Linked DNA regions of Homo sapiens. The protein of the gene in region 1 interacts with the protein of each later gene in a biochemical or structural test. Each region holds a gene or a part of one and is shown in the gene's direction. Other genes may lie near its edges.

Region 1 (3,370 bases):
CCCAGGTTCAAGCGATTCTCCTGCCTCAGCCTACTAAGTAGCTGGGACTATAGGTGCGCACCACCACGCCTAGCTAATTTTTGTATTTTTTCAGTAGAGACAGGGTTTTGCTATGCTGGCCAGGCTGGTCTCAAACTCCTGACCTCAGATGATCCAGCCACCTCAGCTTCCCAAAGTGCTGGGGTTCCAGGTGTTAGCCACCATGCCTGGCCATAGACTTGTTTCTGTTCCCTTCTCACTGTGGCTGTACCAAGGTGTTGCTTATCCCAGAAGTCGTGATGCAGGTCAGCACTTTCTCCATGGGAAGTTTTAGCAGTGTTTCTTTTTAGAATGTATTTGGGAACTTTAATTCATAATTTAGCTTTTTTTTCTTCTTCTTATAAATAGGCTGTACCAGTGCAGGTCCTCACTTTAATCCTCTATCCAGAAAACACGGTGGGCCAAAGGATGAAGAGAGGTAACAAGATGCTTAACTCTTGTAATAATGGCGATAGCTTTCTGGAGTTCATATGGTATACTACTTGTAAATATGTGCTAAGATAATTCCGTGTTTCCCCCACCTTTGCTTTTGAACTTGCTGACTCATCTAAACCCCTGCTCCCAAATGCTGGAATGCTTTTACTTCCTGGGCTTAAAGGAATTGACAAATGGGGACACTTAAAACGATTTGGTTTTGTAGCATTTATTGAATATAGAACTAATACAAGTGCCAAAGGGGAACTAATACAGGAAATGTCATGAACAGTACTGTCAACCACTAGCAAAATCAATCATCATTGTGAAACATAGGAAGCTTCTGTAGATAAAAAAAAAAATTGATACTGAAAACTAGTCGAGACTCCATTTATATGTGTATGTTTTCTGAAAGCCTTTCAGAAAAATATTAAATTTAAGGACAAGATTTTTATATCAGAGGCCTTGGGACATAGCTTTGTTAGCTATGCCAGTAATTAACAGGCATAACTCAGTAACTGAGAGTTTACCCTTTGGTACTTCTGAAATCAGGTGCAGCCCCATCTTTCTTCCCAGAGCATTAGTGTGTAGACGTGAAGCCTTGTTTGAAGAGCTGTATTTAGAATGCCTAGCTACTTGTTTGCAAATTTGTGTCTACTCAGTCAAGTTTTAATTTAGCTCATGAACTACCTTGATGTTTAGTGGCATCAGCCCTAATCCATCTGATGCTTTTTCATTATTAGGCATGTTGGAGACTTGGGCAATGTGACTGCTGACAAAGATGGTGTGGCCGATGTGTCTATTGAAGATTCTGTGATCTCACTCTCAGGAGACCATTGCATCATTGGCCGCACACTGGTGGTAAGTTTTCATAAAAGGATATGCATAAAACTTCTTCTAACATACAGTCATGTATCTTTTCACTTTGATTGTTAGTCGCGGTTTCTAAAGATCCAGATAAACTGTACTTGCAGTTCAAATTAGGAAAAGCAATTTTATTGGACAATTACGGTGAAAATGAATTATTTTATCTAGGTCAGTTAAGAACACTGTTCTGCTAAGATGCAGTAAAAAGCAGGTTACATTTGACCATATTAGATCTGAGTTTGGAAAACAGAAGTAGTCTTTAGTTTTAAAATGGCCAGATTTTCTTGCCAGGATTGGGTTTCTCACTTGTTAAACAGAACATTTTGTTAAGTTTAAAACCTGGGATGGACTTAAGTATTCATGTTCATTCATGTTCATTCAGGACTGCAGGTTATCATGACTTGTTTAACTTGTGGGAAGCTGTTGTCCCAAGTTATCCTGGGGAACTGCATCTGGTTCTTGCAAAACACCAAGTAGACAGGCTCTCTTTTACCTCCCCTTGAGGGCATTAACATTCAGTAGTCACTTCCATTCAGTTAACCCTTTATTTTTATGGTTTTTCTTGAGCCATAGTTGTAAAGCAGAAAAATCATTTATAAAGGTTTGTTGAACAAAATTCAAAATACTGTTGCTTAAAGTATTAAGATTTTTTAGGATTATACCTTACTTATAGGCCCGTCATTCATTTGGCATGAAATTTTGAGTTTTATTCACTTTCACTTTCCTTTTTTTCCAAAGCAATTAAAAAAACTGCCAAAGTAAGAGTGACTGCGGAACTAAGGTTACTGTAACTTACCATGGAGGATTAAGGGTAGCGTGTGGTGGTCTACAACATAGTTATTTGGGTTTTAGTATTTCATTTAGACAGCAACACTTACCTAATGTTTAAAGGTAATGTCTTTGCAACACCAAGAAAAAGCTTTGAGTAGTAGTTTCTACTTTTAAACTACTAAATATTAGTATATCTCTCTACTAGGATTAATGTTATTTTTCTAATATTATGAGGTTCTTAAACATCTTTTGGGTATTGTTGGGAGGAGGTAGTGATTACTTGACAGCCCAAAGTTATCTTCTTAAAATTTTTTACAGGTCCATGAAAAAGCAGATGACTTGGGCAAAGGTGGAAATGAAGAAAGTACAAAGACAGGAAACGCTGGAAGTCGTTTGGCTTGTGGTGTAATTGGGATCGCCCAATAAACATTCCCTTGGATGTAGTCTGAGGCCCCTTAACTCATCTGTTATCCTGCTAGCTGTAGAAATGTATCCTGATAAACATTAAACACTGTAATCTTAAAAGTGTAATTGTGTGACTTTTTCAGAGTTGCTTTAAAGTACCTGTAGTGAGAAACTGATTTATGATCACTTGGAAGATTTGTATAGTTTTATAAAACTCAGTTAAAATGTCTGTTTCAATGACCTGTATTTTGCCAGACTTAAATCACAGATGGGTATTAAACTTGTCAGAATTTCTTTGTCATTCAAGCCTGTGAATAAAAACCCTGTATGGCACTTATTATGAGGCTATTAAAAGAATCCAAATTCAAACTAAATTAGCTCTGATACTTATTTATATAAACAGCTTCAGTGGAACAGATTTAGTAATACTAACAGTGATAGCATTTTATTTTGAAAGTGTTTTGAGACCATCAAAATGCATACTTTAAAACAGCAGGTCTTTTAGCTAAAACTAACACAACTCTGCTTAGACAAATAGGCTGTCCTTTGAAAGCTTTAGGGAAATGTTCCTGCTTAGTCATTTTAGCATTTTGATTCATAAAGTACCTCCTCATTTTAAAAAGACATTATGATGTAAGAGAGCCATTTGATAACTTTTTAGTGAGCTTTGAAAGGCAAGTTACAGCCTCAGCTAGCTAGTAAGATTATCTACCTGCCAGAATGGCACAAATTCTACATTCAAGGGTAGACGCTGGCACAACCTACTTACAGATTAGCCCTTTAAAGCAATCTGTAGCATTAGAAGATGGAACCAAGGAAATGTTTGACTGTGGGTTCTGGCTGTTGAGAAATAATTTACACACCGAATTAGTGA
Region 2 (2,970 bases), on another chromosome or scaffold:
AGAATCTATTGTATGCTTTTGGATCTCTCCGGAGGGTTAAGACAAAATTCTAATAAAGAATCGATAAGAGGTTATATTGATTTTTGTTGTCCTCAGTCTGTACTAAACTCAAACCAAGTTCTCATGCATTACTAGGTTGGAGAAACGTACGGTAAGGATATAACCTCCCGGGGCAAAGACAAGCCGATTGCCGTATGTAAAACTTTCAGTCCACTTCAGTTTCAAGCTTTCTCTGTTCTCTCATTTCACTTCGTTTTCCTAGGATTTTTTATTAAGCCTCAAGCTCCTTGAGTGTTTTATATTTAATTCACTCAAGGTTGGGGTTTTGCTTGATGAAATAAACTTCATTAGAGTGTGATAGTTTACCCACCGGCTTGAATTAAAGCAGTTTGTGAACTGTGATCTTCTCCTCCCAAGTGAAAGGAGGGGACAGTGAGAGGGCCCCTCTCCTGGCTGGTTGGAGATGCAGATATGGAGACTCCTCCCGGAAGCCCACCTGGCTGTGAGCCGAGCCGGAGCAGGACTAACCTTGTTGCCGGGGCCTTCTTTCTCCGCTTGGGTGTCCCGTGTGGTGGGGCTGTCTGGGCGTGGCTGTGCAGTGCTGCTGAGCTAACCCCACCGTGCTTGAGATGGTGTGCTGGGTGCCGCGGTGATTCTTGGACGAGCTTGTGCATGCGCCAGCATTCTTCAAATGCCAGTTATAAAAAGCTGTTGTGTGGGATGTTTCTTTCCCTTTCAGGTACAAGGTATCAGCTGGAGGGTTGAAAGTGTAGCTTGGGAATTGTGTGCATTTCATAAAGTAGCATAATTGCCTTTTTCCAGGAGAATATTTTAGAAATCTAGCATTTTAGAATTCTTGGGCATTTTTAAATACAGGTGAATATTTGAATTTGGTTTGACACAAAATACAGAATGGATGAAGCATGCAGATGTTTGGCGTGTGCCCCGAAGCACCCTCTACTCTGTCCTCTGCACCCACCCTTTGCGCCTCTGCGTCAGCCACAGCTGCCCCGGGAGCGAGTTCTCCTGAGGCCCTGGCTGTGCTGACTCTAGGGCAGCGTGAGGGTGGTTGTCAGCTGTGAAGGTGCCACTTACACACTAAGTCCTCCTTCCTTGTGGAGGGAAGGGCTCAAGTAGCAAATATTGGAGCCCCCGCTTGGTGCTGGGAGCTGTGACAGGCAGCTCCTGAAGAAGCAGTTTAATTGGAACCAGTGACCATCTAAAACTGTTTGTACTCTAAACCAGATTTTACAGAAATATTGGAATCATACCTTTATACTTGATTTTTTCATTTTAGATAGTTAGGCGTAAAGGAAGCCTCCTGAGGGTCTGGTCTGATCCTCCTGATCCTTGAAGAGCTTCCAGCATCATTCTCCCTTCATGCTCCCCATTTTCATAAGTAACTGGTGGCTTGACATGCTGGGTTTGGTTTGGGAGCCCTCTGACAAACTGAAAGGGTGGATCAGGAAGCGTCTGACCACACCACTGGTAGACACGCTCTGCGTCCAACAAGTCCTTCCCAGCAACATGTAGAAAGCAAAGTGCATGCTTCATTCTAAGGTTGTTGTCTAAATGTTTCCCTGTGTTTCCTTTTTGTAGGATGTGTTCTTAATTTGCTTTTCCCTTGTGAGTCCTGCATCATTTGAAAATGTCCGTGCAAAGGTAGGTGGGGATTTAAAATGTGTATGTAAGTTATAGAATGATCCTCTCAGAAATAAATACTTTAAAATATCACTTAGCCTAGGAATTTTTAGTTATTTAAATTGGTTTTAGCAATTTGCTACTTAAGTACATGATTGGGTTTTTTTTTTTCTTTTGAGACGGAGGTCTCACTCTGTTGTGTCCAGGCTGGAGTTGTAGTGGTGACATCAGAGCTCACTGTAGCCTTGAACTCCTGGGCTCAAACAGTTCTCCTGCCCCAGCCTCCTGAGTTGCTGGGACCATAAATGTGCACCACCATGCGTGGCTAATCTTAAAAGAATTTTTGTATGGCTGGTTTTGTAGACCCTGGCTTGTCTCAAACTCCTGGGTTGAAGTGATCTTTCAGCTTCAGCCTCCCAAAGTGGTGGGATTATAGCTGTGAGCCACTGCATCTGGCCCATCAGCAGTTTATTTTATTTATTTATTTTTGAGAGAGTCTTTTTTTTTGTTTTTGTTTTTGTTTTTGAGATGGAGTTTCACTCTTGTTGCCCAGGCTGGAGTGCAGTGACGCAATCTTGGCTCACTGCAACTTCCGCCTCCTGGGTTCAAGTGATTCTCATGCCTCAGCCTCCCGAGTAACTGGGATTACAGGCATGCACCACCACGCCCGGCTAATTTTGTATTTTTAGTAGAAATGTGGTTTCTCCACGTCAGTCAGGCTGGTCTCGAACTCCCGACCTCAGGTGATCCGCGCGTCTCGGCCTCCCAAAGTGCTGGGATTACAGGCGTGGGCCACCGTGCCCGGCTGAGACAGAATCTTGCACTGTCATCCAAGCTGGAGTGCAGTGGCACAATCTTGGGTCACTGCAACCTCCCCCTCCCGGTTCAAGCAATTCTCCTGCCTCAGCCTCCTTAGTAGCTGGGATTACAGGTGCCCGCCAACACACCTGGCTAATTTTTGTACTTTTAGTAGAGACGGGGTTTCACCATGTTTGCCAGGCTGGTCTCGAACCCCTGGCCTCAAGTGATCCACCCGCCGCAGACTCCCAGAGTGCTGGGATTTCAGGTGTGAGCCACTATGCCCGGCCTAATACGTGGATTTTTAAAGCTTCAGGTTCTGGTTCAGAAGTTTCCTGGGTCTCATTAAAATAATGAGGCACTCAGAATTGGTCTAATAAAAATAACGACCATTTCTTTCTACTCCAGTCTCTTTCACAAACTTCTTAGTGAAAATGACAAGTGAGGCCCTTCAGTAGGGGCATTTTCAGTGGAGATAATAGCGGCAGACCTGAGACCTTGGGCTAGGTAGTTTATTCTCATTTCTGAACA
Region 3 (3,500 bases), on another chromosome or scaffold:
TACTTCAGCTTAAAAGCTATTTATCAAAATATTCATCTTACTACTTACGGAGAATAGCTAAATTTTTCTTTACTTAGGAATTTTTTTTCTCCAACTAGGAGTAATTATGAATTTTCTTTTTTTAAGCCATGCCAGTTCTCTGTTAGTAGATAGAAGATGTCTAACATTGAAACAACTCATTTACTTAACCGTACCTGCACAGCTAAAGACTAAGGGATAATATTTCCTTGCTGAACATACCTGTATTTCAGATGGTGGTAGGCTTCAACCAAACAGGCAGTGAAATCACTTTGGGTGTTTAAAACTTGTGTACTTCATTTGTTTCTCAAAAGTTATCATATGTCAGTGATACTTTCTATATCAAAGTGGAAAAAGTAACACTTCTTGATAAAGGAGGTTTTGCTTGCATTGCTCTCTTTATCACTGTCATTAACACCTGAAGAATTATTTTTATTGATAACTTTTTTAAAAAGCTATGCCATTAGCCTTAAAACCATTATGTAGTCTTATCCTATTGATGTTATCTAGTATTTTATTTTATAAATCATTTACTAAAGAATTACTGTTAATTTGTTTTAGAAGTCCTATTAGGAAAGGTTTTGTTACATGAAACTCTCAATATGACAGAAGTGTTCAGTTGTTTTAACTCTGAAATAAGTTTGTGCATTGAATTCTGAAGCAAAAATCCTGCTCAGAAATCACCTTAGCTTGTTTACGCCCAAAAGAAACTTCGAAACTGAGTCTTTGGTTCAAAAAACTGGAGTTGGCCCCATGAAATTATGTATACTTAGCATTTTTAACTTCTGTCCTGTTGGGGAGACCCCTGAGGATAAAAATAGTCCTTATGATTTGAATAGCAGGCAGGTTGCCAATTGAAGAGACTTTGGTAGAAGTGAGCCATAAGGAGGGAGCCAGAGTTGTTAGAGGGAAGGAGCAAGAAACCAGGAGAAGCTTTTGGGAATGTGATGATGTTAGGTTTCCAGATAAATATTATATAACGTATTAATATAAATATTGTATCACAAAAATAAGCTCATTATCATGAATCTGTTGATTTATATTTTGTGATTTCTAAGTCACGTATTGGTATTTGCCCCTGAAAATGGTAAGGTATCCTAAATTAAGTTATTCTAATGCATAATCACAAATGAGACTATGTGAAATGTGCAGAAGTATAGGAGCTAATGCAAGCTCTGTGATGGCAGGGACCATTTTCTTTGTTCACTCTTTAAGTCTTAGCACTTAGCATAAGCCTGACAATAAAAGATGTCGAATAAGTATTTGCTAATAGAATTAAAGTATCTACAATCTAAGGTATTTATTTTATAACTATCTCTTCAGCAGTGTTGTCCAATAGAAATACAATGTGAGCCACAAATATAATTTAAAATTTTCTAGTGCCACATTAAAGAAGTAAAAGGAAACAGGCAAAATTAGTTTTCATAATGCATTTAAGCCAATAGATCTGAAAGATTATCATGAGTGACTTTACGTACTTTTATTCATATTGGACAGCGTAGCTCTAGGGGCGTTTTGTATGACATGTTTCTTTCTGCAGAACTTGTCTTTTTGTAGTCTTTTTCTAACTGATTGATGTGTCTTTTGAGGCCAAATACAGAATTGCATACACCTTCGAATTGGAGTTATTGAGTTGGATTGAAAGTCAGGCTACCTGTCTTCTCTCAGTTTTACATCTCCGCACAAAATGACTTTGCGCGTTACTGTCTTTCCCAATGTATAATCCTGTAATCCCAGCAGTATGGGGAGCTGAGGCAGGCAGATCATTTGAGGTCGGGCAAGACTAGCCTGACCAACATGGTGAAACCCTGCCTCTACTAAAAAATACAAAAATTTGCTGGGCTTGGTGGCAGGCACCTGTCATGCCAGCTACTAGGGAGGCTGAGGCAGGAGAATTGCTTGAACTTGGGAGGTAGAGGTTGCAGTGAGCTGAGATTGTGCCACTGTACTCCAGCCTGAGCAACAGAGCAAGACACCATCTCTAAAATAAAATAAGGAAGGATATTCATCATCTTTTTCATTGGATTAGTATAAGTTAATTATGCCTTTGAAACACTCTGGGCTACTCAGACAAGACTGTTATAAAAGAGATCCTCTAATTATTAGTAACTAGTCAGAGCAAGGCTCAGTGTAAAAAACAGGATAGAAGTTCCCATGAGACTGGTGCATATAGAATGTACTGTTACCTCCCACATTGGAATCAGTAACAATAAATCAATACAAGATGCTCTTAAATAGAATCAGGAGAGGCGACTAGGTTGGTTTGAGCACCAGATTTTAAACCTCTCATCTATTTAATATTGCCTGAACAAATCTGTTTTTCAGTTTTTGTATGGAATAAATGGGACTTTTTATATAGGCATCCTTAAATAAAATCATGAAATAAGGTCATTTGGAAAGTGGAGGTGGGAACTGGTAAGTAATGTGAGTGCGTAAGTGGGGGTGGGAACTGGTAAGTAGTGTGAGTGCGTAAGTGGGGAAAATAAAGTAACCATTTAGAAAAGCCTGTTATCTTAGGGTATATGATGTATATAGTACAATGACTGTAATTCTTTTATCCAAAGCAAGGGTGGCAGTGGTTACCTGGTAGGCAGTTGTGACTTCTGGTTGTATACATAGCCATATCAAATAGATTTCTCCTTATAGCCATACCCTTTAATATAAAACCAACTTTTGTCAGGCATGGTGACTCATGCTTGTAATTCCAGCACTTTGGGAGGCCAAGGTGGGCAAATCACCTGAGGTTAGGAGTTCGAGACCAGCCTGGCCAACATGGTGAAACCCTGTCTCTACTAAAAATACAAAAAAAAATTTACCTAGGTATGGTGGTGGGCACCTGCAGTTCCAGCTACTTGGGAGGCTGAGGCAGGAGAATTGCTCCAACCTGAGAGGTGGAGGTTATAGTGAGCCGAGATTGCGACATTGCACTCCAGGCAGGGTGACAAGCAAATCTGTGTCTCAAAAATAAAAATAAATAAATAAATAAAAACTTTTTTTTGGAGACAGAGTTTCACTCTGTCACCCAGGCTGGAGTGCAGTGACGCAATCTTGGCTTACTGCACCCTCCGCCTCCCAGGCTGAAACGATTCTCATTCCTCAGCCTGCCAGTAGCTGGGATTACAGGCACCTGCCACCACACCCAGCTAATCATTTTTTTTTTTTTTTTTTTTTTTTACAAGCGGCGAGGTTTTGCCATGTTGGCCAGGCTGATTTCGAACTCCTGGACTCAAGTGATCCGCCCACGTCAGCCTTCCAAAGTGCTGGGATTACAGGCGTGAGCCACTGCACCTGGCCCATTTTTAAAATTATGCACAAACGTTAAATATCCTTTAGATTTTTGCATAATTTAGCATACCTTACTGATGTCCTTAGCAAAAATTTCCAGAACCATATTTTAGTGTGTTGCATGGTAACCCCACAAAAGATATGTTCATGTCCTAATCCCCAGAATCTGCAAATGTTATTTGGAAAAAGGGGTTTTG
Region 4 (3,500 bases), on another chromosome or scaffold:
GAAACGGGGTTCCACCATGTTGGTCAGGCTGGTCTCAAACTCCTGACCTCAGGTGATCCGCCTGCCTCAGCCTCCCAAAGTGCTAGGATTACAATTGTGAGTCACAGTGCCCAACCCCTACTTCCTTTTTGTTTCCTTATTCTTAAACACCTTATAAGGTTTTTACTGCTACCCATGAGAAACAAACTTCCTCTTGTTCGCTCTAGTCTATACCTGAATATTCACTCTTCTTTATATTTCTAAACCCAAAAAAAGGACACATAACCCGACAAAGGATTTTTTCAAATATTCTGAATTTATTTGCTAACACTTTGAGAATATTTAATCATATTTAGTTATAATGTTAGAGTGATCATTATATTGAAATTTTTAATGATATAAAAATAGAATTTCTTAGCCAGACGTGGTGGCACTCATCTGTAGTTCCAGCTACTCAGGAGGGTGAGGTGGGAAGATTGCTTGAGCCCAGGAGTACAAAGCCAACCTGGGAAACGTAGCAAGACCCTGTCTTTTTTTTTCTTTAAAGGAATTTCCTGGCCGGGCGTGGTGGGTCACGCCTATAATCCCAGCACTTTGGGGGGCCAAGGCAGGCGGATCACCTGAGGTCAGGAATTCGAGACCAACCTGGCTAACGTGGTGAAACCCCATTTCTACTAAAAATACAAAAAAGTAGCCAGGTGTTGTGCCATGTGCCTGTAATCCCATCTACTCAGGAGGTTGAGGCAGAAGAATAGCTTGAACTCAGGAGGTGGAGGTTGCAGTGAGCCAAGATCATGCCAAGACTGAAACTCCGTCTCAGATAGATAGATAGATAGATAGATAGATAGATAGATAGATAGATAGATAGATAGATAGATGATAGATATATAGATAGATAGATAGATAGATAGATAAAGAAATTTCCTGGGAAATCATTATAGGTAAAACAGTCATGGCCAGCTAACTTTTGCTACCATTATGGAATTGGGGTTTATGAAATATCATAAACCAGACCATTTCACTTTAGGGCAACTCAAAAGGATCACCTTCCACATGCAAGATAGGAAGTTGTTAAGTTCTACCTGGAGACACAGAAGAATATCAAATTCGATGACATTATTGACCATTAGGAAGAGGCTAGCCTCCTGCCCTTTAATATTACATCTTAATTAGATAAATTAACCAAGTGGAAATCTGGACTATATCCATAGCTCAAATTTGGTCCTCTCCACACACTTTCATAAAACATTTCTGGGGCCGGGCGCAGTGGCTCACGCCTGTAATCCCAGCACTGTCGGAGGCCGAGGCGGGTGGATCACCTGAGGTCAGGAGTTCGAGATCAGCCTGACCAATGTGGAGAAACCCCGTCTCTACTAAAAATACAAAAATTAGCTGGGCGTGGAGGTGCACACCTGTAATCCCAGCTACTCGAAAGGCTGAGGCAGGAGAATTGCTTGAACCTGGGAGGCAGAGGTTGCAGTGAGCCAAGATCGTGCCATTGCACTCCAGCCTGGGCAACAAGAGCAAAAAATTCCGTCTCAAAAAAAAAAAAAAAATTTTTGGCCAGGCACGGTGGCTCGCGCCTGTAATCCCAGCACTTTGAGAGGCCGAGGCAGGCTGATCACCTGAGGTCAGGAGTTCGAGACCAACCTGGCCAACATGATGAAACCTCGTCTCTACTAAAAATACACAAATTAGCTGGGCATGGTGGCATGCCCCTGTAATCCCAGCTACTCGGGAGGCTAAGGCAGAAGAATCGCTTGAATCCAGGAGCCGGAGGTTGCAGTGAGCCAAGATCACACCACTGCACTCCAGCCTGGGCAACACAGCGAGACTCCATCTCAAAAACAACAACAAAAAGAGGTAAATTTAAGGCCAAGATTGATGTGGAAGTGAAAAGGATTTTGGAGAGAGGGAAAAGGTAGAAGTTCACAAATGCCAATTTTGTATTTCTCGCCTTCTGGGATCTACACCAATTTAGAAATAGCCCCAAGACTAGGATAGGGTAAGGAAAAGATTGTATTAGCTTCATTACCCCCATAGATAGGGTACCCTAGAGTTCCTGAATTGGGAAAAATGCCTGGGATCTGTAACCAAAACTGGACCTCCTACTACAGTCCCTCAATTCTAGACCTTGGAAGTGCACTTAAGGAGGGTTAGGTCTGTAGGGTAGACACTTAGCCAGCCAGAGACATCACACCCTATCTTACACACCACTAAGTAAGGAGAAAGAGCCAAAGAGAAATGAGCTTTCAGGCCATCTCTTGAAGGCCGGTCCTACCTCTTGGCTGGCTATGCTTAATCTCCTAGAAGGAAGATCAGGAAAACAGTTGTTTTGCTGGAAGACAAATAGGACTTAGAATTATATCCCAGTTCCGTAGCCCAGTCTAACCAAATCAAATAAAGGAATAGAAGCAACAATCAGAGGTCCCCGCCCCTCTATTGTAATGTAATCAGTCTGGGTCAGCCATTTTAATTTTTATTCCTGTGTGGTATGAAATGGCTTGGGAACTTTGTTTTTCCCTTGAATGAGACATTTCTTATAAATAAATCAGGACTGATAGCTTTCCAGCTTATTTTTTAAACTTTTTATTTCTGTGTATTCTTTTGAAATTAAGCATTTTCTATTAAAAAAATAGAGCTTAACATGCAACACCTCATTTGAAAAAGAAGTAATTCTAATATATGCTATCTGTTTCACAGGTTGTAGGTCATAAAGAAGGTCTGGATGTTATGGAGAGAGCTGATCCTTTATTCCTTTTAATTGGACTTCCTACTATTCCTGTCATGCTGATATTAGGCAAGATGATTCGCTGGGAGGACTATGTGCTTAGACTGTGGCGCAAATACTCGAATAAACTACAAATTTTAAATAGTATATTTCCAGGTAAGGCACTGAACTGTGGTTGTAAAGTGCATACCAAATTGATCTTGAAGAACAATAACATGCTTTTTTAGCCATGTTTGAAGGTAGTCTAACTCTTCTGATTTATTAGCACTAACGCACTGCATTTTTTTCCTCTAGGGATAGGTTGTCCTGTTCCTCGAATTCCAGCTGAGGCCAATCCTTTAGCAGATCATGTCTCTGCTACTCGAATCTTGTGTGGAGCCCTTGTCTTTCCTACTATTGCTACAATAGTTGGTAAATTGATGTTCAGTAGTGTTAACTCTAATTTACAAAGGACAATCTTGGTAAGACGGCTTTAACATTACTTATATTACCTTGCAAAAGAGAATGAAGTGTATTTGTTTTTAAAAGGTGGGGAACTGTATAAATATTCGGTCTGTGGCTCCTATGCATTAAGCCTCTATTTGAGCCTCACTATCATTCAATAGCTTGAGTGGAAATAAAAAGAGGAGAAACCACTGCAGCAGTTCTGGCCTTTTGGAACTATGTTGTAGGTGCTTTCTCTCCTGGCATATGCATGAATCATCACACCTGTCCCTCTTGCCAGTGGGATTACAGTACTTTACGATCAGACCACCTGGTTCAAATCCCATCACAGAAATTGTCTTGCTGT
Region 5 (2,885 bases), on another chromosome or scaffold:
ATGATAAGCTTAGCAAGAGCAGCGACAATGAGCTTGCATTGTCAGATAACCCCCAAAGAATACAGCATAGATAAAGAAGTAAACGTATAATAAAGAAAAAAAGTTGGGCTGGGTGCTGTGGCTTATGCCTGTAATCCCAGCACTTTAGGAGGCTGAGGCAGGAGGATCACTTGAGCCCAGGCATTTGAGAGCAGCCTGGGCAACAGAGCAAGACCCCATCTCTACAAAAAACTAGCCAGGCGTGGTGGCACATGCCTGCAGTCCCAGCTACTGGACAAGCTGAGGTGGGAGGATTGCTTGAGCCCAGGAGGGAAGCTGAGGTGGGAGGATTGCTTGAGCCCAGGAGGTCAAGGCTGCAGTGAGCCAAGATTCCATCACTGCTCTCCAGCCTGGGCAACATGACACCCTGCCTCAGAAAAGTAAAAATAAAAAAATCTCATCATAAACCTAAAATAAGTTTTGGAATATAAAGGGCTTTTAGTTATCTGAAAAATGCACTTAATGTGGTAACATGTTCTCAGACAATGCTGGATAAAAGTATTTTTTAATATATGATTATTTGGATAGCTTTGTATATTGTCAGTTGTACAAATACAATTCATCTAATATATAGTATTAGTGTATGTTAGGTAGTAGTAGATAAAAGTAATATACTTTTAAGAAATGAATAGGCAAAATACTTTCTAGCCTCAACAGGAAAAAAAATGTATTAATAGTAGTGAACATGAAATGTGATTATTAGGTCAAAATGTGTAAATAATTTGACAGACTATGAATTTTTGAAGCAAATTTCAAACTTATTTAAATGAAATATAATGCTATTAAAAGTATATTTGCAAAGGCACCCTCATGATTAAAAATAAACTTTTCATAAATCACTTCTTGGGGTGCCGTCAGTTCCTGATTGAAAGGTGGTGTGGGTGCATTTGGTTAACCGGGACGCGCTTTGTGCTTTGTTTTCTAGGCTATAGAAAGCGCAATTGGTGGTAACGCTTATCAACACAGCAAAGTGAACCAGTGGACCACAAATGTAGTAGAACAAACTTTAAGCCAACTCACCAAGCTGGGAAAACCATTTAAATACATCGGTAATGGAGTCTTGTTTCTTTTATATTTGCGGGATGGTTTTTTAACACTGATCAGAGGGGCATCCAGTACCAGAAACAACAGCTAACGTGGCTCAACTCAAGGAAGGCTCCTGGTGGGAGTCGGTCGTGTGTGTAGTATACGTTAGCGTACGCTTGACCATTTGGCTGCTGGTACAATTGCAGATCGTATGTGAAGCGGGATCTTACAGGAGGTCCCATCAGATGCTTTTAGAACAAGTGAAGCATAGAGGAAGTGTGGACAGCCCCCAGCTGACAGTGGCTCAACTTAGAATTTTTCAACTTTGATGGATTTACCAGGGTATTAAGTGCATTTGCAACTTACATTTTCATATATTGTTGATTTATGATGGGTTTATGGGATGTTGTAAGTCAAGGAGCACCTATAATTTGTCAATATAGTGAGACAAGGCAATCTGTCCCTATAATTTTTATCGAGAACATCAACCACGTGGAGCTACATACATTGTACGTTTGCTAAAAGTGGACAGAATGACATTTGTGTTACCCAGTAGACTTCTCTAACAAAAATTTGTTTTAACTTAAGTGACCTGTGTAATTATGCAGAAGAATGGAGCTGGATTACACACAGCAAGTTCCTGCTTCTGGGACAGCTCTACTGACGGTATGATTTTCATTCATGTTTGTGAAGTTTTGTTGTGTGAAATATATGACTGGAAGTTTCCTATCTTTGAATGCAATGCATGTTTATCACCTTTTAAAACATTTAATAATAGACTTGCCAAGGTTCTTTGTGTAGCATAGAGATGGGTACTTGAATGTTGGCCTTATTGTGAGTAAAACGTCGTCCCCCAGCTTTCCCTGCCGTAAATGCTGCTCTCTTCCCTCCCGCAGGGAGCTGCACTGTGCGATGGGAGAATAAGACCATGTACTGCATCGTCAGTGCCTTCGGACTGTCTATTTGACCTGCAGTCCAGCCTATGGCCTTTCTCCTTTTGTCTCTAGTTCATCCTCTAACCACCAGCCATGAATTCAGTGAACTCTTTTCTCATTCTCTTTGTTTTGTGGCACTTTCACAATGTAGAGGAAAAAACCAAATGACCGCACTGTGATGTGAATGGCACCGAAGTCAGATGAGTATCCCTGTAGGTCACCTGCAGCCTGCGTTGCCACTTGTCTTAACTCTGAATATTTCATTTCAAAGGTGCTAAAATCTGAAATCTGCTAGTGTGAAACTTGCTCTACTCTCTGAAATGATTCAAATACACTAATTTTCCATACTTTATACTTTTGTTAGAATAAATTATTCAAATCTAAAGTCTGTTGTGTTCTTCATAGTCTGCATAGTATCATAAACGATTTCTTCATAGTGAGTGGCTACAGAATCTATACAACCAGACCAGGCGCAGTGGCTCACACCTGTAATCCCACCACTTTGGGAGGCTGAGGCAGGCGGATCATGAGGTCAGGAGATCAAGACCATCCTGTCTAACACGGTGAAACCCCGTCTCTACTAAAAATACCAAAAATTAGCCAGGTGTGGTGGCGGGCGCCTGTAGTCCCAGCTACTCGGGAGGCTGAGGCAGGAGAGTGGCATGAACCCAGGAGGCAGAGGTTGTAGTGAGCCAAGATCGTGAGCCAAGTTCCCGCCACTGCACTCCAGCCTGGGTGACAAGAGCAAGAGTCCGCCTCAAAAAAAAAAAAAAAAAAAAAAAAAAAAAATATATATATATATATATACAACCAAAAAAAAAAAAGTTCTGCTGTGGTCCTCTCCATGATGTACTCATTTTACCCGTGGGACCAGGATCCTGACGG
Region 6 (4,216 bases), on another chromosome or scaffold:
GGCCCTGGGGATGCAAAAGGAATAAAACTCCCAAGGTAACATTTTTTTCCTTTGGTAACAGCTTATTGAGATACAATTCGCATATTGAGATAGAACTATTTAAAGTGTACAATGATTTTTCAATTCAGAGTTGGGCAATCATCACCTCAATTTTACATTTTCATTACTTTGAAAACAAACCTATCCCAGCCAGTGACTCACGCCTGTAATCCCTGCACTTTGTGAAGGCAAGGTGGGAGGATCACTTGAGCTCAGGAGCCACAGACTGGTCTGGACAACATAGCAAGACGCTGTCTCTACCAAAAATTAAAAATTAGCCAGGTGTGGTGGCATACGCCTGTAATCCCAGCTACTGGAGAGACTGAAGCAGGAAGATTTCTTGAGTCCAGGAGATGGAGGATGCAGTGAGCATGCCACTGTACTCTAGCCTGGGCCACAGACCCTGTCTCTTAAAAGAAACCTGCACCCTTTATCACCCCCTACTCCCCTCTTCCTCCCATCCCTAAGCAATCATTAATCAACTTTCTGTGTCTGTATATGTACTTGCCTATTGTGGACATTTCATATCAATGGAATCACACAACACGTGGACCTTTGTGGCTGTCTTCTTTGACTTAGCACGTGTTTAAGGTTCGTTCCTATTGTAGCATGTATCAGTAGTTCATTTTTATGGCCGAATAGTACATTTTATGGATGTATCACATTTATCCACTCATCGCTTGACGGACATTAGCGTTGTTCCCATCTTTTGATTGTTAGAATGTAATCAACATTTGTGTACAAGTTTTGTGTGGAGGTATGTTTCCACTTTTCTTAGAGGAGTGGAATTACTGGGTCAAATGGTCACTCTTGTTTGACTTTAAGGAAAGGACAGGTTATTTTCCAAGACAGCTGCACCATTTGACATTCTCACTTCTGGGGTATGAGGGAACACATTTTTATTTCCCGCTAAATCAGGTTCATTTTTTAGTTTCTGCTGGAGGCTACTAGCAAACAGCAGAAACTTGAAAGACTGTTAATATTCTTTCTTCTGGGGTTTCGGGCACCAGGGAAGCTGCGCGGCCCCTAGGAGTGCTGGGGGTAACCTCTTCAGAGGGTTAATGGGGTGGGGGGGGGGCAAGTGGCCGACGGCCTGGTGGCCAGGGTGCCCCGCGCCCTGAGGCCCTGCCCGCCTGCCAGCGCCTGCGAGCCCGAGTGACCCCTGCGCCGCGGCCGGAGCAGGTGCCCTCTGTGTCTGCGGGCCCAGCCAAGCCGTGGTGCGGACGGCGGATGATGCTGGGTGCCCGCCCCCCGGCCTGAGGCCCGGGGCTACGCCCGCTAGGCGGCGGCGCGACCGCTGGGGGCGGGGGACGAAGGCCGCGCCCCTGCGCCCGTCCCGCCAGCGTCCCGCTGGGGGCGGCGGCCTGTCCCGAGCCCGCCCAGGCTCTTCCGCGCCGGCAGGGGCAGCAGCGGGAGCAGCGCGGGGCGGAGCGGCGCCAGCAGCCAGGAGCGGCCCGGCCCGGCCCGGCGCGGCGGCGGCGGCGGCAGCGGCAGCGGCAGCGACGCCAGAGCCCGTGGGCGCCGTTCGCGAGGCCGCCGCAGAGGCCCGGCCGCAGCGCAGGGAAGCCTGGGGGCCAGAGGTCGCCGCTGCCGCCATGCCGCTGCTCTTCCTCGAGCGCTTCCCCTGGCCCAGCCTCCGCACCTACACGGGCCTCAGCGGCCTGGCCCTGCTGGGCACCATCATCAGCGCCTACCGCGCGCTCAGCCAGCCCGAGGCCGGCCCCGGCGAGCCGGACCAGCTAACGGCCTCGCTGCAGCCTGAGCCGCCGGCGCCCGCCCGGCCGAGCGCCGGGGGACCCCGGGCCCGCGATGTGGCCCAGTACCTGCTCTCAGACAGCCTCTTCGTGTGGGTGAGCGAGGCGGCCGGGCCCGCGGGGCAGGGGCGGGGTCCGCTGCGTCACCCTTTATCCGCGGGGGCGTGGTGGGCCTAGGGGCCCCTCCGCCAGGGACCCCCGAGGGCGAGCGCCTGGGGGGCGCGGCCTTGCTCGCGGGAGCGCTGCTGAGGGAGAGTGGTGAGGCGCGGGGAGGGGGAGGGGGCCGCGGGCGGGAGGAACATCGCGTGGGGTTGCGAGGAGGAGGCCCCGAGGGGCAGGCCAGCGTTGAGGGCTCCGGGAAGGGGGTCGGGGAGGCGGCGGGTGATGGTCTGCGCTGGGGCGCGGACGGGGCCTGGGGCAGGGGAAGGGGTTAAGGGGCAGTGGGGAGGAACGGGCTGGGTTTTCTGAGGGACCCTCGGGAGAAACTAGAAGATCTCAGAGGGCAGGTTCAAGGGGAGGTCGGGATCTGGGAGTGCGTTATCCCGAGGGTTGGACGAAGTAGAGTGAAGTTGAAAGCTTTTCCCACTTGGTCAGGCATGGGATTGTTAGCGGATTTTCTTCCGACGAAGAGGAGAGGGCAGAGGGGAGAATTCAGACGTTGAGTATGGGGGAATTTTCGGCACTCAGGTGTCTTTGGACATTCCGGTTGGAGAGAGGCCGTCTCCCACAACTTTTTTGCCGCTTAGTATTCGATTGTCCCCTTTGGGAGCTGTGTAATGAAACAAACACCAAACTGTGCTTCCTTTTCTGCTGCCTTTACCTGATGTTCATGACAGTTTTCCTTTGATGTCTGAACGCAGCAAAACATTCACAGTGTCAAGAGGCAGCCCATCATTTTAACTGAATGTTTCTTATTTGAGGATCTATTCTAACACAGTTTCCAGGTTGTCTGCCCCTGCGAGATAAGCAGCATTGATAAGGCACACATGCTGGTTTCGTTCATTAGAACAGATAATTTCAGACTGATCAGATCAACGGTATTTTGGCTAGAGAATTTTGCTTTCATCTTGGCCTTGAATACTTATGTAAATCCCGCAGTGATCAGAAAAGTTTCTCCAGGATTTAAAGCCTCACTTGGATTTAATATGGCTTCTTGGATCTTGTCTCCTTGCATGTTCCCATTTGGGGTTGAAAGTGGGCTGTAAATGACTGAGAGATTAATATTCCAAGTTGATAGTATGATATGCAACTCATTTGTTATAATTAGTCCCACTGTGCTTCATCAGGAAGCGGTGGGATTTATGGACTCTGTGGGCTGTAGATTAAGTCTCCTGGTCCTTCTGATGGAGAGTTTAGTAGAAGGCAGTGAAGGGTGAAGTTCCTGTTTATCTACTGCTGTGTAAAGCTGAACTTTACAGTCCTAAAGAAGGGAGAAGCGAAAGAACTCAACTCACATCTCTTGCTTAATTTCAAATCTGTTTTTGCATTTGAGTTAGCAGGTAAACAAAGTGATATGGAGAGTGTTTTTGCCATGTTAAGATTATAATGTAGTCTTTGATATTTTTTAAGTCTAAGATATAAATAAGCCTTTGAGAAGGAACCCTTATTTTATTTATATAACAACACTGGTATTGTTTAATGGATTTCCCCCCGCAGGACTTTATTTTGATAAAAGCCATGTTCAGATTCTAAAGTTAATATCTCTTCAGAAAACATTACATAAAAGCTGTTGATTTTTCTGTGATGATGATTACTTTTTAGGAAATTTCCTTTTCTTCCAGCATTTTCAGTAGAGGTCTTACCTCTGGCAGGTTTATCACTTCTTACTCTCCGCTGATGATATTTTCATTTCTCAGTTGATCCTAGTGCTGTTTTTCTTCCATCTTTCCTCTGGGGTCTCCACGTGTTTACTTTGGCCTGCTTTGGTTTCTCAGACCCTCCATGTGCTCACTGTTTGTCTCATCACTCAGTGTATATGTAGTTTCTGCTTTAGCAGCTGAGTAGAAGTGACAATCTCAAAAGCCTTCCCCAGTGGTGGGACAGATTAAGATTGTTGAGTGAATACCCTATGTGGTGGTGCCTTTGTCAACTGGATCCTCCTTGCGCCCTCCCCTAGTTCTATTGAATTCAGATTCAACTTTTTCACGAACACTGCCTGCCAAGGCCAAGCAAGACAAAACAAAGACTGATCCTTCTGCCAGTGCAAGTCCTGCTAGATATTAACATATTGTAATTCCCAAAACTTATCTTTTTAGAGCACAGTTTAGAATAATATCGGTCTGATAGCATCACAGGAGGTTTTTCATGAACAAACACAATTTAAAACCTTTCGAAGGTGTTATTTTGGGCACTTTGGAGGGCATATCTGTGAACAACACTTTCCCCTACCCTCAGTAATATGGCAAAATTTTATAGGGGATAAT
Region 7 (3,500 bases), on another chromosome or scaffold:
CCTGTTTGTGATAAAAATACATTTCTGAAAAGTATACTTTACGTCAGATTTGGGTTTCTATTGACTAAAATGTGTTCATCGGGAATGGGAATAACCCAGAACATAACAAGCAAAAAATTATGACAAATATATAGTATACCTTTAAGAAACATGTTTATATTGATATAATTTTTTGATTAAATATTATACACACTAAGGGTACAAAGCACATTTTCCTTTTATGATTTGATACAGTAGTTTATGTGTCAGTCAGTACTTCCACATTTTTGCTGAACTGGATACAGTAGGCAGCTTACCAAATATTCTATGGTAGAAAACTTGGGACTTCCTGGTTTGCTTAAATCAAATATATTGTACTCTCTTAAAACGGTTGGCATTTATAAATAGATGGATACATGGTTTAAATGTGTCTGTTTACATACCTAGTTGAGAGAACCTAAAGAATTTTCTGCGTCTCCAGCATTTATATTCAGTTCTGTTTAATACATTATCGAAATTGACATTTATAAGTATGACAGTTTTGTGTATATGGCCTTTTCATAGCTTAATATTGGCTGTAACAGAGAATTGTGAAATTGTAAGAAGTAGTTTTCTTTGTAGGTGTAAAATTGAATTTTTAAGAATATTCTTGACAGTTTTATGTATATGGCCTTTTCATAGCTTAATATTGGCTATAACAGAGAATTGTGAAATTGTTAAGAAGTAGGTGTAAAATTGAATTTTTAAGAATATTCTTGAATGTTTTTTTCTTGGAAAAATTAAAAAGCTATGCAGCCCAATAACTTGTGTTTTGTTTGCATAGCATATTATAAGAAGTTCTTGTGATTAATGTTTTCTACAGGAATTTGTCAATCTTTATTCTGACTACATTCTCAATAAATCAGTAGAAAAACAGTTCAAGGCTTTTCGGAGAGGTTTTCATATGGTGACCAATGAATCTCCCTTAAAGTACTTATTCAGACCAGAAGAAATTGAATTGCTTATATGTGGAAGCCGGGTAAGAAAGCAGGTGTCTGCAAAAAGTCATGTATCGATTTATTGTTTGTAATGATACAGTAGTATAGCAGATAACTAAGACATATTTTCTTGAATTTGCAGAATCTAGATTTCCAAGCACTAGAAGAAACTACAGAATATGACGGTGGCTATACCAGGGACTCTGTTCTGATTAGGTGAGGTACTTAGTTCTTCAGAGGAAGATTTGATTCACCAAAGGGGTGTGTGATTTTGCTTCAGACCTTTATCTCTAGGTACTAATTCCCAAATAAGCAAACTCACAAATTGTCATCTATATACTTAGATTTGTATTTGTAATATAATCACCATTTTTCAGAGCTAATCTTGTGATTTATTTCATGAATGAAGTGTTGTTATATATAAGTCTCATGTAATCTCCTGCATTTGGCGTATGGATTATCTAGTATTCCTCACTGGTTAGAGTATGCTTACTGCTGGTTAGAAGATAATTAAAATAAGGCTACCATGTCTGCAATTTTTCCTTTCTTTTGAACTCTGCATTTGTGAACTGTTACATGGCTTCCCAGGATCAAGCACTTTTTGAGTGAAATGGTAGTCTTTTATTTAATTCTTAAGATAATATGTCCAGATACATACTAGTATTTCCATTTTACACCCTAAAAAACTAAGCCCTGAATTCTCACAGAAAGATGTAGAGGTTCCCAGTTCTATCTGCTTTTAAGCAAATGCCCTTACTACTCTACTGTCTACTTCTGTGTACTACATCATCCAATTCTGAAAGACATAGGCTTCCCCATCCCCTGCTAAGACTGGTTCAAGTGGCAGCTACTGATGGATTGCAGTGAGAAGGCATGCAAACACGTACCTTCCTGGAAGTTGTCTCCAAAGGCTATTGCTCTAAGACTCAAGTATATAAACACTAGAATGAATATCAACTCTATCTAGCAATAAATGTTATTTTTATATTACAGTTGACCCTTGAACAACACAGCTGTGAACTTCATGGGCCCTCTGACATGCAGATTTTTTTTCTCAACTAAGAGCAGATTCAGTATTGGTGGGACTCAGAACCTGCATATACAGAGGGCTGACTTTCATACATGCCAGTTTCACAGGGCCAACTGCAGAACTTGAGCGTGCATGGATTTTGGTATACACACGTGGTCCTGGAACCAATCCCTGTCACATATACCAAGGGATGGCTGTATGTTACTTTATATTCATTTGTTCTGTTATTTTATAAGGTTGTTCGTCGTGGTATGTGGGAATTCACCAGTATTTCTTCTTTCTGGTGCACCGTTGGTCATTTCTGGCAGCAGTGGTGAATGTATTTACTCTTAGCAACCTCTGTGCTGCTACCTGTTCTGAGTTTCAAAGGTGATTCATTAAAGGGTTGGGATAACATGGTGATAGGAAAAACCCCCCTCATCAGTCACAAGGAGTATAACAGCAATATCTCTGTAATATGATTGATCATAGATATAATTTCTAGTAGGAAAAAAAGTCATATCTTGATGCATCTCTGAGAATAGTTGAACATATCTTGTGCTATTCTTTATAGAGAAATTATCTTTGAAATTAAAGTCTTAATTTTACTTCTAGCTTTTTATAACAACATAATCCCTACTTGGTATGTATCTTAAGATCATTTTTAAATGTATGATTTGAAGGGCAAACTAGTGTTATGTGAAAAATGACAGATAAAGTAGCTTCCAACTCATCCTCAAGAGTTGATGATATTCTAAACCTTTTCTAACTAAATTCAGCTTCTTAATTTTCTCAATATAAATATGATGAAAATATTAATTCATTAAATAGTCTACAAGTATTCGGTAGTTGAAGACTTAAAGTAGTGCTTGTAATAACAGAAGAGAAAAAAGACATTACAGGCGTATCTCACTTTATTGCACTTTGCAGATACTGAGTTTTTTTGGTGGCAACCCTGCATCAAGCAGGTCTACCAGCACCATTTTTCCAACAAAATGTGCTCACTTCATTAGCATTTTTAGCAATGATTTTAAATTAAGATAATGTACTTATTTTTAGACAATGCTGTTACACACTTGACTACAGTATAATGTAAACGTAACTTTTATAAGCACTGGGAAACAAAAAAATTTGTGTGACTCACTTTACTGCCATAATCACTTTATTTGCCATGGTCTGAAACTGAACCGGCAGTATCTCTGGGGTATGCCTGTATAGATATTTTGGTTGGTATTTATTTATTGTATGCAGAATTCATAAAAATAAAAACTGCGAGGCTGTTTAATACATTTCAACTAAAAGTTGCCAGCATCATTAATATGTAAACCACTAGAAATAAGATTTTGTTAATTTTTTGTTTGTTTGTTTAAACAGTCTTGCTCTGTCACTGAGGCTGGAGTGCAGTGGCGCAGTCTCAGTTCACTGCAACCTCCGCTTCCTGGGTTCAAGTGATTCTCCTGCCTCAGCCTCCTGAGTAGCTGGGGTTACAGGTGCACACCACTACACCTGGCTAATGTTTGTATTTTTAGTAGAGA

Evidence for each region.
Region 2: the proteins of SOD1 (region 1) and RAC1 form a complex in vitro, tested with the Homo sapiens proteins (one study listed by IntAct).
Region 3: of the proteins of SOD1 (region 1) and RNF19A, one has a biochemical effect on the other in vitro, tested with the Homo sapiens proteins (one study listed by BioGRID).
Region 4: of the proteins of SOD1 (region 1) and MARCHF5, one has a biochemical effect on the other in vitro, tested with the Homo sapiens proteins (one study listed by BioGRID).
Region 5: the proteins of SOD1 (region 1) and DYNLT1 form a complex in vitro, tested with the Homo sapiens proteins (one study listed by BioGRID).
Region 6: of the proteins of SOD1 (region 1) and AMFR, one has a biochemical effect on the other in vitro, tested with the Homo sapiens proteins (one study listed by BioGRID).
Region 7: the proteins of SOD1 (region 1) and UBE3A form a complex in vitro, tested with the Homo sapiens proteins (one study listed by BioGRID).

Annotation. Positions count from the first base shown.
Region 1 is NC_000021.9:31,666,062-31,669,431, forward strand, and holds the end of SOD1 (superoxide dismutase [Cu-Zn]), read left to right. Parts: intron 1-387; coding exon 388-457; intron 458-1,196; coding exon 1,197-1,314; intron 1,315-2,409; coding exon 2,410-2,517; 3' UTR 2,518-2,870; downstream 2,871-3,370. UniProt on the Homo sapiens protein: Destroys radicals which are normally produced within the cells and which are toxic to biological systems.
Region 2 is NC_000007.14:6,398,527-6,401,496, forward strand, and holds part of RAC1 (ras-related C3 botulinum toxin substrate 1), read left to right. Parts: intron 1-135; coding exon of another isoform or gene 136-192; intron 193-1,599; coding exon 1,600-1,662; intron 1,663-2,970. UniProt on the Homo sapiens protein: Plasma membrane-associated small GTPase which cycles between active GTP-bound and inactive GDP-bound states.
Region 3 is NC_000008.11:100,303,454-100,306,953, reverse strand, and holds part of RNF19A (E3 ubiquitin-protein ligase RNF19A), read left to right. Parts: intron 1-3,500. UniProt on the Homo sapiens protein: E3 ubiquitin-protein ligase which accepts ubiquitin from E2 ubiquitin-conjugating enzymes UBE2L3 and UBE2L6 in the form of a thioester and then directly transfers the ubiquitin to targeted substrates, such as SNCAIP or CASR.
Region 4 is NC_000010.11:92,346,667-92,350,166, forward strand, and holds part of MARCHF5 (E3 ubiquitin-protein ligase MARCHF5), read left to right. Parts: intron 1-2,682; coding exon 2,683-2,866; intron 2,867-3,004; coding exon 3,005-3,171; intron 3,172-3,500. UniProt on the Homo sapiens protein: Mitochondrial E3 ubiquitin-protein ligase that plays a crucial role in the control of mitochondrial morphology by acting as a positive regulator of mitochondrial fission and as an important regulator of immune response.
Region 5 is NC_000006.12:158,635,974-158,638,858, reverse strand, and holds the end of DYNLT1 (dynein light chain Tctex-type 1), read left to right. Parts: intron 1-964; coding exon 965-1,088; intron 1,089-1,653; coding exon 1,654-1,731; intron 1,732-1,961; coding exon 1,962-2,032; 3' UTR 2,033-2,385; downstream 2,386-2,885. UniProt on the Homo sapiens protein: Acts as one of several non-catalytic accessory components of the cytoplasmic dynein 1 complex that are thought to be involved in linking dynein to cargos and to adapter proteins that regulate dynein function.
Region 6 is NC_000016.10:56,422,746-56,426,961, reverse strand, and holds the start of AMFR (E3 ubiquitin-protein ligase AMFR), read left to right. Parts: upstream 1-1,416; 5' UTR 1,417-1,634; coding exon 1,635-1,889; intron 1,890-1,972; exon of another isoform or gene 1,973-2,051; intron 2,052-2,227; exon of another isoform or gene 2,228-3,292; intron 3,293-4,216. UniProt on the Homo sapiens protein: E3 ubiquitin-protein ligase that mediates the polyubiquitination of lysine and cysteine residues on target proteins, such as CD3D, CYP3A4, CFTR, INSIG1, SOAT2/ACAT2 and APOB for proteasomal degradation.
Region 7 is NC_000015.10:25,352,025-25,355,524, reverse strand, and holds part of UBE3A (ubiquitin-protein ligase E3A), read left to right. Parts: intron 1-841; coding exon 842-997; intron 998-1,098; coding exon 1,099-1,172; intron 1,173-3,500. UniProt on the Homo sapiens protein: E3 ubiquitin-protein ligase which accepts ubiquitin from an E2 ubiquitin-conjugating enzyme in the form of a thioester and transfers it to its substrates.